Regions from separate parts of the Homo sapiens genome. Here region 1 is linked to region 2. Evidence: fine-mapped expression QTL. A gene starts in region 2. The other region holds a variant in brackets. All regions are shown on one strand. Distances are between the middles of the regions. Region 1 has its middle 28 kb from the start of TRO. Region 2 holds the start of MAGED2 (MAGE family member D2).

Region 1 (2,918 bases), 85 kb after region 2:
AATTGAGTATATATGTGTGTATAGGTAAATCTACACACACATATGTAAATATATACACACATTTTTTCCATAGATCCATAAAACATGCCATAGAGCAATCATTGAGCTTTCATAATCTGTGTCTGCCTTTTGCTTTGTAGTTTGGAGACCCTAAGATTAGTCACACGTAGATTCATATGTTTGATCAGCTAAGTTTTTGAGAAGGGACGTATGTGAAAAAAAATCAGTAGTAAATTGGTCTAGGTAACACGTAGACATCTGTACGTGGATTATTGGAACTTAAGCTTATTGGAACACAAAGAAAGAAGAGGTTATTTCTACTTGTGTTGAGAAAGATGGAGAGACAGAAAAGGCTTCATAGAGAAATGGTTACTTGGGTTGAGATAACACACAAATGAGACCTAATATCCATTAAATCGACAAGGTTCAGGGAAGGATGGTTCTGGTTAGAAGAGATGGCATGTGTAGAAGTATACAACATACATAGGGACATGATACAGCATGGCATAGAGGGAGAAAGCATTTCTTCACTCCAAACTAATGAGAGCCTCCCCTTTAGAGTATACTGCCACGAGGTGGCAGTAGGAGTCTTATTCTTGTGTTCTGAGGCATTGGTATGGCTGGTTAACTAGCCAACAGCTAAATCAGGAACGCAATCCCATTCACAATTACCATACACAAAAAATAAAATTCTTAGAAATACAGCTAACCAGGGATGTGAAAAGTCTCTAAAATGAGAATTACAAAGCATTCTTCAAAGAAATTAGAGATGACACAAACAAATGGAAAAACATTCTGTGCTCATGGATAGGAATAATCAATATTAAAATGGACTTATCGCCCAAAGCAATTTACAAATTCAATGCTATTCCTGTCAAATTACCAACGACATTCTTCACAGAACCAAAAAAAACTATTTTAAAATTGATATGGAACCAAATAGATCCTGAATAGCTACGACAATCCTAAGCAAAAAGAACAAAGCAGGAGGCTTCAAACTATACTACAGGGCTACAATAACCAAAACAGCATGGTACTGGTACAAAAATAGACACATAGACCAATGGAACAGAAGAGAGCCCAGAAATAATGCCACATACTCACAACCACCTGATCTTTGACAAAGCTGACAAAAACAAGTAAGGGGGGAAAAAAAACTCCGTATTCAATAACTGGTGCTGGGATAACCATTCTGGACATAGGAACAGGCAAAGATTTCATAA[T/A]GAAGATGCCAAAAGCAATTGCAACAAAAGCAAAAGTTGACAATGGCATCTAATTAAACCAAAGACCTCTGCACAGCAAAAGAAATTATCAACAGAGTAAACAGACAACCTACAAAATGGTAGTAAATTTTTGCAAACTATGCATCTGACAAAGATCTAATATTTAGCATCCATAAGGAACTTAAATTTATAAGAAAAAAAAATCAACCCCATTAAAAAGTAGACAAAGTACATGAACAGACACTTCTGAAAAGAAGACATGCATGTGGACAACAAGCATATGAAAAAAAGCTCAACATCATTGATCATTAGAGAAATGCAATTCAAAACCACAAGAGATACCATCTTACACCAGTCAGAATGGCTATTATTAAAAAGTGAAAAAAAAAATAACAGGTGCTGGCAAGGTTGTGGGGAAAAAGGAATGCCTATACATTGTTGGTGGTAAATTAGTTCAACCATTGTGGAAAGCAGTGTGGTGATTCCTCAAAGAGCTAAAAAACAAAACAAAACAAAACAAACAAAAGAACAAAACAAAACAAAAAAACCACCATTTGACCCAGCAATTCCATTACCAGGTATATACCCAAAGGAATATAAACCATTCTACCACAAAGGCCTATGCATGTGTATCTTCATTGCACCACTATTCACAATAGCAAAGACAGGGAATCAACCTAAATGCCCATCAGTGGTAGACTGGATAAAGAAAATGTGTTACATATATGCTATGGAATACTGCACAGCCAGAAAAAAGAACAAGACCATGTCCTTTGTAGGAACATGGATGGACCTGGAGGCCATTATCCTTAGCAAACTAACACAGAAACAGAAAACCAAATACCGTATGTTCTCACTTATAAGTGGGAGCTAAATAATGAGAACATATGGATACAAAGAGGGGAATAACAGATACTGGGGTCTAATTGAGGGTGGAGGTTGGGAGGAGGGAGAGAAACAGAAAAAAACAACTATTGGGTTCTAGGCTTAGTACCTGGGTGATGAACTAATCTGTACAACAAACCCCGTGACGTGAGTTTACCTATATAACAAACTTGCATATGTACCCGTGAACCTAAAATAAAAGTTAAAAATGAAATATGTTGGCTTTTCTACTTATAACTATTTCTAAGCCTACCTACATAAATATTTGCTCAAAATAAAGCCCACCAACTTAAGAATGTAAGAAATGTTACTTTCTTTGCTTTCTTTAACACTGATCTTCCCTTTTACCATCTCTACTGAACTGGATGGTAGAAACTTATAAAATTTTAGCTATTTATAGACCCCTTCTCCTGTGACCCTCTACTTTTCACCAGGATTGTATTTAACTTCTGGAGAGAAGTTTCTGGCTTCAAGATGGCTGACTAGAGGCATCTGGTACTCACCTCCTTCTAAACTAAAGTTCTTTTTTAGTTTAGAATAATTAAAACAATGAGTAGATAATCACATTTGGAGCAGATCATCTAAGAGAGAACACTGGAATTCAGCAAAGAAATGACAGGAAACACCTAAAAGAAGGAAGGAGCGGGAAGCAAGGCAGGCTGCTTGGCTAGGATCAGCTGGGAGCACAGAGAGTCTTCCTAATGTGGGGAAAGGGTAAGTGAGACATCCCCAGTGGTCCACATTCCCACCGTAGACACCTGCAATCCTAGCCATAGGAGAGCCCCTCGGCCCTCATGGACCCTGAGACTA
Region 2 (2,896 bases):
ATTCTTTAGTAACTCCTGGGTGCTCTCAGGATCAACACCAAAGTCCTCATCTTGGCATTCTAAACTTGCCAACTTGCCATGATTTGGAAGGGGTGGGGAATTTGAGATGCCAGAAGTAGAAGAAAAGGAGGGGCTATGTCTAGTGTGGATAAGGGAGAAAATCTAGGAGGCAAGAACATGGTGAACTGATATCACACACTTGGAGAAAGCAATAATTCAGAGAAAGAGAAAAGACAGGAAAACAGAAGCCTGCCTTGAATATGCAAGAAATTTGTGTGTTTGTCTATCTTGAATTATCCATGGAACACAGGGATTCATTATATGTTATTTACATAGTAAAAGGTGACCACATAAAGCAGAAGACTTGTGTCCATTTGAATTACATTTATATGTGGAAAGGCACTGAATATTATTTCTGCAACTAACAGTTGTGCTGAATTTTATTATGGTTTCTAATAACTTTTTAGTTGATGCTCTTGGGTTTTCCAGGTCTGCATTTATATATTCAGTAATTAATGATGATTTGTCTATTTCCTATTATTTTACATCTTATTTTGTTCTCTTGAACAGATCCAATTGGTTATGTGAATTTATTATGTGATAGAGGTGCCATTTCAAAGCAGAGAGGGAAAAGATGGATTAGTTTGCACATGATGTAGAGGTAAGAGACTATGATTTTGAAGAGTAATCAAGCTGAATCCGTATAGAAAATAAATTTTGAAATGATCAAACATCTAAATGTAAATAATAAAGCCACAAAAGTGCTTGAAAAAAAAAACGGGGTTTGTTATAGGAGTGTGAAAAGCATCTTTAAGCAAGCAGCAGAATCCAGTTGTGATGAAGGAAAAATGGATATATTTGACTACATAATAATTAAACATTTTTGTTTGGCAAAAATTATCATAAATAACATGAAAAATATTTGTAATATGTGACATGTACAGGAGAGACATTGCTGGCGGGAATGTTATCCATTTACTTTTTAGGAGTAAGTTGACAAATTTTGCATCAAAATGGAAGACTTTTTTGTAGCATTTGAGCTAGCAAAAAATACCATAAATAACAAAAAGTGCACCAAGCAATCTAAATGTACATGTGTACTGGACTGGTTCAATAAATTATGGGACATCTATGCAAGAAAAGATCATGCAGCTGTTTAGAAAAATGTGCACTAACGGAAAGATGTTTTATATATAACTGGAAAAAAACAGGTCGCAGAACAGAAGGTATGTATAGTGTACCATTTGTCGGAGAGAGAACCTGAATAATTAGTATACGAATAGAAAAAAAATCTGGATAGCAAAATGTTAATAGTGGTTATTTCTGGGAGATGAGTGGCCTTTCATTGGTGTGTTATATATTACTGCATTGTTTGAATTTTTACAACAACAACAAAAGAACAACATATTACCTTTGTAATAAGAAAAAATGAAGATATAAAAATAAATTCAATGAATGACTTGCTTTCAGGGGGCGGTTTGAGTTGGAAGAGCTTCAGACTGAGCCTGGTACAGTGGCATAAACATGGGCTTTGGCGTCAGACAGCCCTGAGCGGGGCCCCATTGCCCCACCCCCGAGGAAGGCGAGGGGGGGTGGCAGGGGGCTGCGGAAAGGGGCTGGGCTGGGTTGGGCTGTCTGCAGCTCTAGTCCAGGAGGCTGAGACTTCGAGAGGGACTTAGAGAAGGCAGACGCATCCCGAACTCGCTGGAGGACAAGGTGAGGGGCGTTGATATTGGGGTTTTATGGAGGTCAGACAGTGGTTCCAGACCCCTCGAACCCATAGCCAGGCAGATGAGCAATTCTTACTGCACCACTGCAGCTGAAGCAGAGGTGACCTGGAGTGGGGTGTAGGCAATGAGGACGACTGAGAAAGTAGTAGGCTGTACAGACTGGGAGCAGAGACTAGCGGAGGGAGGAGGGGAGAAAAACGGGGAACCAGGAATGTTGGGAGGGGGACGAGGAATACAAGGAGGGAGGGGAACACTGAGGGGGAGTGAAGATCCAGAGAAGAGAATCGGGGATGCAGAGAGGGATTAAGGAATACTGAGGGGCAGGGTGTGCAAACGTAACACGGAGGAGGATGTAAGAAATGGGAAGAAGGAATTCTGGAGTAAATAGGAAATGTGAGGTAGGAATAGGGAGTAGGGAGCCAGGCTAAGGGAATACGGAGGGGGGCATAAGGAATGAGGAGCAGGGAGCGGGGGAGGGGCAGACAGGCTGGGACGGAGGCCCCCTAGGGAGGCGGAAAGGGGCGGGACCACTTCCGGCCTAGAGAGGGGAGGGCAGTCTCCGAGTTTCGGAGGGGCTTGGAGTGAGTGGACGCACTCGGGAATTGTAGGAGGACGAGGTGAGCAGCCGGGTCGGCTTTTGGATGAGAGCCCCGCTAGGGGTCGGCCCCACCCTCTGGGATCTGGAGAAAACCTGCCTTAAGGACCGGATCGTACCGGATCCATCCGGCTGGGAAGGGAGGGGACTGGACCCGGTTTGGCCGGGCCCAAGATGGAATCACTAGCTCAGTATTTATTTGAGGAGGGGGTGTAATAGGGAAGGGGCGGAACCAAGATGCGCCTGTTTGGAGGGGGGCGTGTTAGGAAGAAGGGCGGGGCCAAGAGACACTGGACTCTGTAGGGCGTGAGTAGGGGAGGGGCCGGGTCCACCAGACACTGCGACAATTTTGGAGGAAGGCTTGTTGGGCAGGGGGCGGGACCGAATGGTACTGCGGACCTGGAGAGGGGCGTGTGTTGGGGCAGAGTGCCAGACTGAGACCACGACCATTGCGCATGCGCACTATGTTTCGCTAGAAAGGGGCGTGTTGAGAAGGGCCAGCACTGAGAAGAGCCAGCTGCTGAATGCGCATGTGCACGGTGGACATCAAAGAAAGGGCTCGTGCTGGGAA

What was found. PIP is the estimated chance that this variant, and not a neighbour inherited with it, causes the effect. A credible set is the group of variants that fine-mapping cannot tell apart.
Region 1: its variant is the best candidate, but not a certain one, in a credible set for the expression of MAGED2 in nasal epithelium (TOPMed, PIP 0.62).

The regions. Positions count from the first base shown.
Region 1 is chrX:54,891,204-54,894,121 of GRCh38, forward strand. No RefSeq gene overlaps it. Among named protein-coding and RNA genes, the nearest start is that of TRO, 28 kb to the right of the region's middle. The variant T/A (reference allele first, on the strand shown) is at 1,224.
Region 2 is chrX:54,806,087-54,808,982 of GRCh38, forward strand. It overlaps MAGED2 (MAGE family member D2), which reads left to right and starts at 1,659. Exons shown (of 13, transcript NM_177433.3): 1 at 1,659-1,716.